2 separate regions of the Homo sapiens genome follow, and region 1 is linked to region 2. The links come from fine-mapping of genetic effects on plasma protein levels. A gene starts in region 2. The other region holds a variant in brackets. All regions are shown on one strand. Distances are from middle to middle. Region 1 has its middle 17 kb from the start of CCL24. Region 2 holds the start of CCL26 (C-C motif chemokine ligand 26).

The links. PIP is the chance, under the fine-mapping model, that this variant and not a neighbour inherited with it causes the effect. The UK Biobank Pharma Proteomics Project read protein levels with antibody pairs (Olink). The fine-mapping took linkage between variants from a reference panel, not from the people measured, so its PIPs are less certain.
Region 1: its variant is fine-mapped to the plasma level of the CCL26 protein (UK Biobank, PIP above 0.99).

Annotation. Positions count from the first base shown.
Region 1 is chr7:75,793,938-75,799,306 of GRCh38, forward strand. No RefSeq gene overlaps it. Among named protein-coding and RNA genes, the nearest start is that of CCL24, 17 kb to the right of the region's middle. The variant GGA/G (reference allele first, on the strand shown) is at 2,351.
Region 2 is chr7:75,769,704-75,775,064 of GRCh38, forward strand. CCL26 (C-C motif chemokine ligand 26) reads right to left here and starts at 2,508. Exons shown (of 3, transcript NM_001371938.1): 1 at 2,401-2,508; 2 at 2,186-2,300; 3 at 1-86. The coding sequence starts at 2,473. RefSeq lists a silencer at 3,028-3,322.

The sequences.
Region 1 (5,369 bases), 24 kb after region 2:
AAAAGAAAGCGGGCCAGGTGAGGTGGGTAACACCTGTAATCCCAGCATTTTGGAGGGCCTAGGTGGGCAGATCACTTGAAGTCAGGAGTCGAGCCCAGCCTGGGTAATATGGTGAAACCCTGTCTCTACTAAAAATAAAAAAATTAACTGGGCGTGGTGGTGCCCACCTGTAATCCCAGCTACTCGGGAGGCTGAGGCAGGAGAATCTCTTGAACCCAGCAGGCAGAGAATGCAGTGAGCCAAGATTGTGCCACTGCACTCCAGCCTGGGCGACATAGTGAGACTCTGTCAATAAAAAAAAGAAAGAAAGAAAAAGAGAGAGAGAGAGAAATAAGAGAGAAAGAGAAAGGAAGGAAGGAAGGAAGGAAGGGAGAGAAAGAGAAAGAGAGACCGCGTGCAGTGGCTCACACCTGTAATCCCAGCACTTTGGGAGGCTGAGGTGGGTGGATCCCTTGAGGTCAGGAGTTTGAGACCAGGCTGGCCAACATGGTGAAACTTGTCTGTACTAAAAATACAAAAATTAGCCAGGTGTGGTGGCACGTGCCTGTAATCCCACCTACTTGGGAGGCTGAGGCAGGAGAATTGCTTGAACCTGAGAGGCGGAGGTTGCAGTGAGCCGAGATCGCACCACTGCACTCCAGCGTGGGCAACAGAGCAAGACTCTATCTCAAACAAAAAAAAAAGAAGAAGAAAAAAGGAAAAAAAAAAAGAGAGAAGTAAGGAGTGGATGTAAAGAAACTCCCTTGTCTGCTGTCCCAGTGAGACCTACACATGGGGAGCTAGTGAGGGGAGCCAGAGGAGGCACAGTGTGTTAGGAGGGGTTCCCCAGCCCTGGGAAGCTCTTCCTGGAGGAAGCAGCATCCTGGCTTGTGTGCAACAGAGACCAAGCCGAATCAGGAGAATAAAAACATGTTTCGGCCGGGCGCCGTGGCTCACACCTGTAATCCCAGCACTTTGGGAGGCTGAGGCAGGAGGATTACTTGAGCCCAGGAGTTCAACACTAGCCTGGGCAATATAGTGGAACCCTGTCTCTACAAAATCTTAAAAATCAGCTGGGCATGGTGGCACATGTCTGTAGTCCCAGCTACTTGGGGAGCCTGAGGTGAGAGGATCGCTTGAGGCCAGGAGGTTGAAGTTGCAGTGAGACACGATCACACCACTGCACTCCAGCCTGGGTGACGGAGTGAGACCCTGTCTCAAACAAACAAACAACTAAAAAACCGTATCTCCTGGAGTTGGAAGAAAAACAAACTTTTTTGTTTGTTACCAGTTAATCCATTTACCCTGAAAGCGGTTCTAGGAGAGTGGTTTCTTTATTTCTCTTTCTTTCTTTCTTTCCTTCTTTCTTTCTCTCTCTTTCCTTCCTTCCTTCCTTCTTTCTTTCTTTCTCTCTTTCTTTTTCTATCTTTGTTTCTTGATCTCTTGCTTTCTTCTTTCTTTCTTTCTTGATCTCTTGCTTTCTTCTTTCTATCTTTCTTTCTTGCTCTCTTGCCTTCTTCTTTCTTTTTTTCTCTTTCTTTTTTTTTTTTTTGAAACAGGGTCTCCCTCTGTCACCCAGGCTGGAGTGCAGTGGTGCAATCTCGGCTCACTGCAGCCTCCAGCTCCTCGGTTCAAGCGATTCTCCTGCCTCAGCCTCCCAAGTAGCTGGGACTATAGGCATGCACTACCACGCCTGGCTAAGTTTTGTACTTTTAGTAGAGACAGGGTTTCACCATATTGCCCAGGCTGGTCTCGAACTCCTGACCTCAAGTGATCCACCTGCCTCGGCCCCCAAAAGTGCTGGGATTACAGGCATGAGCCATGACACCCGGCCTAGGGAGGTTTTCTTATCCCCTTTTACAGCCTAGAAAACTGTGGTTTGTTCAAGGCCACAAAACTCATGGATGGCAGAACCAAGGCTCAGAGCTGGGTCTGTGTCATGCCTGTGCCTTGTCCTGCCTCTGACAGTCTCAGAGTCCTACCCCCCAACCCTTAACGCTGAGAATGAACCTTCAGGGTGGCTTCCGCCAGGCTTTGTCCCGAAGCTAAAACTACTCTGTAGTTACAGGACCATATCAGAGCCAAGGGCAAATAGCAGCTAGATAGATAAGGGGAGGCATCTGCGGGTTAGCAAAAGTCAGCAAATTCCCTTCCAAACTTTCAATTGGCCAATAAAAAAAGGGAAATGCAGCCCATCCCACCAGCTTCGAGAACATAACAACGAACTGCCAGTTGCTTGGGAGAAGCGCAGCTCTTCCCCATTCTGAGTCTTGAGAGATGTTTCCCCAAGCAAGGTCGTGACCGGGCATGACCCATAGCAAGAACTGAATGTTCCTTTGGGCTTGAGATTATTCAGAAGTTAGAAGGCTGG[GGA/G]GAGAGAGACTTCCAGGGAATGCCTTTTTAGAGGCTGAAAAGCACTCCAACCTGGACAACAGAGTGACACTCCGTCTCAAAAAAAAACTAGTGGCAAAAGGCAGAAGGTGGGATTTAGTAGGAGCCACGGGAGGAGGGGTCTGGGGTCCTCTTGCTGGCCTGCTTACACTGAGCATTCGGGGAGTATTAGTCTCCCCTACTCAGCTACGGTCAGTAACAGAATAATTTCCTCTAAATCTTGCCTGTATCTCAGGCAGAATAAGCGACTGGAAGACCCAAATGACCACCTTTCTTTTGATGAGACACGGTCTTGATCTGTTGTCCAGGTTGGAGTACAGTGATGCAATCACAGCTCGCTGCAGCCTCCAACTCCTGAACTCTAGCGATCCTCCTGCCTCAACCTCCTAAGTAGCTGGGACCACAGGCACACATCACTATGTCCTGATAATTTTTTTTTTTATTTTTAATTTTCTAGACATGGGGGTCTCCCTGTGTTGCCCAGGCTGGTCTCAAACTCCTGGGCTCAAAGCATCTTCCCACCTTGTCCTCCCAAAGTGCTAGGATACCAGGCACGAGCCATCACACAGGGCCACGTACAGCTTTCTAAGAAGGAAACTTCTGGCCGGGCGCGCCCGTATTTCTAGCACTTTGGGAGGCCCAGTTGGGTGGATAGCCCAAGCTCAAGAGTTTGAGACCAGCCTGGGCAACACGGTGAAAACCCATCTCTACTAAAAAATCCGCTGGGCATGGTGGCATGTGCCTGTAATCCCAGCTACTGGGAAGGCTGAGGCACGGGAATTGCTTGAACCCAGGAGGCAGAGGTTGCAGTGAGCCGAGATCGTGCCACTGCGCTCCAGTCTGGGCAACAGAGGGAGACTTGGTCTCAAAAACAAAACAAAACAAAACAGTCCAGGCGCGGTGGCTCACACCTGTAATCCCAGCACTTTGGGAGGCCAAGGCGGGCAGATCACAAGGTCAGGAGATCGAGACCATCCTGGCTAACACGGTGAAACCCCGTCTCTACTAAAAATACAAAAAAAATTAGCCAGGCATGGTGGTGGGCGCCTGTAGTCCCAGCTACTCAGGAGGCTGAGGCAGGAGAATCGCTTGAACCTGGGAGGCAGAGGTTGCAGTGAGCTGAGTTCACCACCACTGCACTCCAGCCTAGGCGACAGAGCGAGACTCCATCTCAAAAAAAAAAAAAAAAGAAGAAGGAAACTTCCATAAGTTCTTTTGTTTTCTTAGAGATAGGCTCGCTTTTTTTTTGTTTGATTTTTCTGAGACAGAGTCTCACACTGTCGCCCAGGCTGGAGTGCAGTGGCACCATCTCAGCTCACTGGAACCTCCGCCTCCAAGGTTCAGACAGTTCTCTTGCCTCAGCCTCCCGAGTAGCTGGGACTACAGGAATATGCCACCACATGTGGCAATTTTTTGCATTTTTAGTAGAGACAGAGTTTTGCCATGTTTGCCAGGCTGGTCTCAAACTCCTGGCCTCAACTGATCCGCCCGCCTCGGCCTCCCAAAGTGCTGGGATTACAGTCAAGAGCCACCATGCCCAGCCAGAGTCTTGCTTTGTTGCCAGGCTGGAGTTCAATGGCACGGTCATGGCTCACTGCAGCCTCCAACTCCTGGGCTCAGGCAATCTTCCTGCCTCAGCCTCCTAAGAGGCTGAGAATACAGGTACGTGCCACCATGCCCGGCTAATTTTTTAAAATAGAGATAAGGTCTCACTATATTGCTCATAGTAAGACTCGTCTTCTGGCCTCAAGTGATCCTCCTGCTTTGGCTTCCAAAATACTGGGAATACAGGTTTGAGCTGCTGTGCCCAGGCCCATGCGTTCTCAAGGGGCTTCCTGGAAATGAACAGGTCTGTAATTTTGGGAAGTGAGATAGTATAACTACCCTTTTAATAGAGAGGTTTGACCTAGAGAAACAAGGTCATGGAATTCTTCAGAATCAATAACTTTGCAAGGGCTGGGACCTAGAGCCAGGATAGAATTTCAGCAGTTCTGACAGCAAAACATCTTTCTCGGTCAAAAAAAACATTCATTCTGGCAACTTCTCCCAGCAGTATACTTCCCAGAAGGACATGGGGATGGGAAGAAGAGAGAGAGACTGCGTCTCAGAAAGAATTGATGAGCTGGGAAGCCAGGTGGGGTGGTTCACACCTGTAATCCCAGCACTTTGAGAGGCTGAGGCGGGTGAATGGCTTGAGGCCAGGAGTTCGATACCAGCCTGGGCAACATAGTGAAACCGCGTCTCTGCTAAAAATACAAAAATTAGCAAGGCGTGGTGGCACGTGTCTGTGGTCCCAGCTACTTGGGAGGCTGAGGTGGGAGGATTTTTTTTTAGCCCAGGAAGTCGAGGCTGCAGTGAGCTGTGATCATGTCACTGCACTCTAGCCTGGATGACAGAGCGAGACCCTGTCTCAAAAAAAAAAAAATTATAAGCTGGGATTTACTAGGTAGGGAAGCCCAACACTGCATGGCTCTCTAGAAGCATGTTCTATCAAGAGATGGATGGAGGCTTGGCATCCCTTGCAGGAAGGCTGGTTGGTGGAGAGAGGACAAAAAGCCAGGGAGGAGGAGAGGAGGAGGGGAAGCGAGGAGTTGAAAGCTTTGAAAAGTTCAAAGGCTTCGAACAAGATAAGACCTTATGCTGACCTTTCTTTATCTGGCAGTTCCAGCTGCCACCTGGAGGAAGAAGTGACTGAGACCAGAACTGTGCCCACCAGCTGCCACACTTACCTGGCAAGGGCTCAGAGTCAAGATACCCAACCCAGCTCAGCACTTCTCCCTGGACCTCTTCCAACTGCATGAAGCCCTGGGTCCCTGGGTTGTTCACAGTTCGTTGTCTCCCGGTGTAGAAAAGTCTGTCAACCCTGCTTGGACATCGCAATCACCTGGGTAACTTTTTTTTTTTTTTTTTGAAACGGAGTTTCTCTCTTGTTGCTCAGGCTGGAGTGCAATGGTGCGATCTCGGCTCACTGCAAACTCTGCCTCCCGGGTTCAAGCGAT
Region 2 (5,361 bases):
TCGGAGTTTTCAGTAAAGAAATGTATTTTTGCACCCATTTTTTCCTTGGATGGGTACAGACTTTCTTGCCTCTTTTGGTAGTGAATCTGTGAAAAAGAGACACGGATAAGTCAATATTGAGACTCTTTGCCTCCTGGGGTGGGATAGAAAGGGAAGGAGGGGCAGCTCTCTCACTAGTCTTCTGGCCTTGCCACAAACTTGTTGCTCTCTGTCCCTGTCCCCTCTTCTCCTGGGCCTTGTCTCCCTCCTCTTTCCTATCTTGATTTCCACTGGAAACTATGCCTCCAGACCCACCTCTACCAGGTACCATTTACCGTTTTCCACCAGTTCTAGCCTGCAGCATGTAACCTGCACCAGGACACTTAATTTTTTTTTTTTTTTTTTGAGACGAACTCTCACTCTGTTGCCCACATTGGAGTGCAATGGCATGATCTCAGCTCATTGCAACCTCCATTTCCCAGGTTCAAGTGATGCTCCTGCCTCAGACTCCCAAGTAGCTGGGATTATAGGCACGCATCAGCACACCCAGCGAATTTCTGTGTTTTTAATAGAGACAAGGTTTTGCCATGTTGGCCAGGGTGGTCTCGAACTCCTGACCTCAGGTGATCCGCCTGTGTTGGCCTCCCAAAGTGCTGGGATAACAGGTGTGAGCCACCACGCCTAGCCTTTATTTTGTTTTATTTTTTATTTTTTTTGAGACGGAGTTTCACTCTTGTTGCCCAGGCTGGAGTGCAATGGCGCGATCTCGGCTCACCACAACCTCTGCCTCCCAGGTTCAAGTGATTCTTCCGCCTCAGCCTCCCAAGTAGCTGGGATTACAGGCATGCGCCACCACGTCCAGCTAATTTTGTATTTTTAGTAGAGACAGGGTTTCTCCACGTTGGTCAGGCTGGTCTCGAACTCCCAACCTCAGGAGATCTGCCCACCTCAGCCTCCCAAAGTGCTGGGATTACAGGCGTGAGCCACCACGCCCGGCCTATTTTATTTTTTTTGAAACAGTTTCTCTCTTGTCACCCAGGCTGGAGTGCAGTGGCGCGATCTCTACTCCTGCAAACTCCGCCTCCCGGGTTCAAGCGATTCTCCTGCCTCAGCCTCCGGAGTAACTGGGCTTACAGGCCTGCGCCACCTCACCTGGCTGATTCTTTCATTGTAATAGAACAGCTTTGTTGGGATATAATTCACACGGCACATACAGTTGACTCTTGAACAACACGGATTTGAACTCTGTGGGCCCACTCATAGGCAGCCTTTTGCCAACCAAAGGAGGATAGAAAATACAAAACTCGGTGATGCAAAAGCTGCATAAATTCAGGGGAAATTGTATGCCAAAATCCTGGCACCAATCCCCTGTGGTTACTGGGGGATAACTGTAATTCACTCTTTTTTTTCTCTTTTGTTAGGGATGAAGTCTCTCTGTGTTACCCAGGCTGGAGTGCAGTGGTGCGATCATACCTCACTGCAGCCTTGAACTCCTGGGCTCAAGCGATCGTCTAAACCTCCCCACCATGTACAACTCCACCAATTTAAAGGCTATAATTATAATTCAATGGTTTTTAGTATAGTCATAGATTATGCAACCATCACCACAATCAATTTTAGGATATTTTCATCACCCCAGAAAGGAACCCTGCACTCAACATGTCATTTAATTGTTAGCCACATTTTCAAGGTTATTCATCATAGCTGATGATTCCTGAGCTCTTACTTCACTGTGAGTTTATTAAAAGTGGGGATTGGCTGGGTCCAGTGACTCACACTTGTAATCCCAGCATTTTGGGAGGCTGAGGCGGGCAAATCACATGAGCTCAGAAGTTTAAGACCAGCCTGGCCAACCATGGTGAAATTCTACTAATAACACAAAAATTAGCTGAGCATGGTGGCATGTGCCTGTAATTCCAGCTACTTGGGAGGCTGAGGCAGGAAAATTGCTTGAACCCGGGAGGGGGAGGTTGCAGTGAGCCAAGATCGTGCCATTGCACTCTAGCCTGGGCAACAAGAAAGAAACTCCGTCTCAAAAAGAGAAAAAAAAAGTCAGGTTCTACCTGAAGCTCAGAGTCACACTTGTTAGTGTGCAGAGGTGGGGTTTCCAGGTTCCCATCCCAAGGCTCATCCTGGGGGTCTGCCCAGCACCCATCCTGTTGCATGACTGATGGGGCCCCAGAAAGTACGTCCGAGAAATACTCACATCACAGCCCGCTGGGAGCAGCTGTTACTGGTGAATTCATAGCTTCGCACCCAGGTCCAGGGAAGGGGCTTGTGGCTGTATTGGAAGCAGCAGGTCTTGGATATGTCACTCCCACCTAAAAATCAGGGAGAGGAAGGGTTTGGAGATACTCATTTCCATCCACTCCCAGGCGGTCCGGGAAGGAACCCCAGGAGGGGAATGGGCCAGCTACGTACGTGTGGCAGTTCCAAGGTGGAGACTCAGGAGGGAGGCCAGGAGCACAGCAGAGGCCAAGGAGAGGCCCATCATGATGCTGCAAATCAGGCCCTTCTCAGGTTTCTCCCAAACTCCTCCTGCCTGATCCCCTTTTATGAGACTGAGACGGCCCTGAAAACAATTCCAGAGAATTCTGTGGTTGGGAACAGAAGCAGCACTTTTGACCCAACAAAGGAAAAGTAAACTAATACTCATAGGAATGAAATTAGACAGTGAAGAAAGATAATCTGGCACTGGGCGTGGTGGCTCATGCCTGTGATCACAGCACTCTGGGAGACCGAGGTGGGCGGATCCCTTGAGGTCAGGAGTTCAAGATCAGCCTGGCCAACATGGAGAAACCCTGTCTCTACTAAAAACACAAAAATTGGCCGGGCATGGTGGCAGGCAACTGTAATCCCAGCTACTCCTGAGGGTGAGGCAGGAGAATCACTTGAACCTGGGAGGTGGAGGTTGCAGTGAGCTGAGATGGCACCACTGCACTGCAGCCTGGGCGACAGAGTGAGACTCTGCCAAAAAAAAAAAAAACAAACAAACAAACAACAAAAAAAAACAAGTGACAGATGGTAGAGATCCCTTTATTGAATTCCATCAACAGGGACAAAAAAAGAAGAGAATTTGGGAGAAGAGCAGGGGCAGGCAGGCCCCAGGGAGTCTGGTTCCCAGTGCTGTTGGCTGAGTCAACACTTTCTTGTTTAAAAAGAAAAAGCAGAGGAAATTAAGTAATATTCCAGTGAACTGAACTAAGTTACTTTATAGCACAATTGGTTGTTGAAGATAGGTTTCTGGCTCTTGGGCAAAGTTTTGTTTCCTTTCTAAGCATTGCTTATCTCTGTGTGGAGCTCTGGATGGTCTCAAGATGTGATCATAGAGTAGCCCAACCTCGACAATGGATATTTAAAAACAGGGTCCAGGCAGGTGCCAGCCCATCTTCTTGGGGCCACACCTGTAGGGCCAGGGCTGGCTGGGGGCATTTGAGAGATCTAACAGATCCCAAACCTGACAGATCATCACAATCACCCGAGGCTTAAAACAAAACAAAACAAACAAACAACAACAAATAATATATATATATAGTGAGAGAGAGGGCCTGGTCAACATGGTGAAACCCCGTCCCCACTAGAAATAAAAAAATTAGCCAGGCACGGTGGCGGGCACCTGTAATCCCAGCTACTAGGGAGGCTGAGGCAGGAGAATCGCTTGAATGCAGGAGGCAGAGGTTACAGTGAGCCGAGATCCCGCCATTGCACTCCAGCCTGGGCGACAGACCAAGACTGTCTCAAAAAAGAAAAAAAAATAGAGATGAGGTCTCTCTATGTGGCCCAGGTTGGTCTTAAACTCTTGGCTCAAGTGACTGTCTCACCTTGGCCTTCAAAAATGTTGGGATTACAGTGAGCCACCACGTCTGGCCATACCTGGTCAATTATTATTATTATTTTGTGTGTGTGTGTGGGGCCAGTCACAGTGGCTCACGCCTGTAATCCCAGCACTTTGGAAGGCAGAGGCAGGGGGATCGTCTGAGGTCAGGAGGTTGAGATCAGCCTGGCGAACATGGTGAAACCCCGTCTCTACTAAAAATACAAAAATTAGCCGGGCTAATTTTGTGGTGGCTCATGCTTGTAATCCGAGCAACTTGGGAGGCTGAGGCAGGAGAGTCACTTGAACCTGGGGGGCAGAGGTTGCAGTGAGCCAAGATCGTGCCATTGCACTCCAGCCTAAGAAAAAAGAGCAAAACTCTGTCACAAAAAAAAAGAAATTTGTAGAGCCCAAAGGTTGCCAGGCTGGTCTCAAACTCCTGGCTTCAAGGCGATCTGCTTACTCCAGCCTCCCAAAGCACTGGGATTATAGGGGAGAGCCACCACACCTGGCTTCAGCCAAATTTTTAAAAGAACTTAACAGAAGTTTGTGATAGTCAGAGCTGTTGTAGGTGGGAAGAGGATAGATGGTGAGTTGCCTGTCACTCAAACCAGGCACAACAGTCTGGATGATCATGAGAGGGTGGTTTGTTTTTGTTTTTGTTTTTATTGAGATGGAGTTTTGCTCCTGTTGCATACGCTGGAGTGCTATGGCACAATCTCGGCTCACTGCAACCTCTGCCTCCCAGGCTCAAGCAATTCTCGTGACTCAGCCTCCCAAGTAGCTGGGATTACAGGCATGCGCCATCACGCCCGGCTAATTTTGTATTTTTAGTAGAGATGGTGTTTCACCATGTTGGTCAGTCTTGTCTCGAACTCCTGACCTCAAGTGATCCACCTGCCTCAGCCTCCCAAAGTGCTGGGATTACAGGCATAAACCGCCATGCCCAGCTGTTTGTTTGTTTTTTTGAGACAGAGTCTTGCTCTGTCATCCAGGCTGGAGTACAGTGGCACAATCTTAGCTCACTGCAGCCTCCACCTCCTGGGTTCGAATGATTCTTCTGCCTCAGCCTCTGAGTAGCTAGGATTACAGGCATGCACCACCATGCCCGGGTAATTTTTGTATTTTTAGTAGAGACAGGGTTTCACTATGTTGCCCAGGCTGGTCTCGAATTCCTGACCTCAACTGATCTGCCCGCCTCAGCCTCCCAAAGTGCTGAAATTGCAGGTGTGAGCCACCCCACCCGGCCTATTTTTTTTAATTAAATAAAAATTAACTGAGTATGGTGGCATGTGCACCTGTAGGCCCAGCTACTCAGGAGGCCGAGGCAGGAGGGTCACTTGAGCCCAGGAGTTCAAGGCTGCAGTGAACTATGATCATGCCACTGCACTCCAGCCTAGGTGACCGAGCAAGACTCTGTCTCTTTAAAAAAAGAATTATTGGTCGGGCCCGGTGGCTCACCCCTGTAATGCCAGCACTTTGGTAGGCTGATGGGGGTGGATACCTTGAGGTCAGGAGTTCAAGATGAGTCTGGCCAACATGGTGAAACTCCGTCTCTACCAAAAATA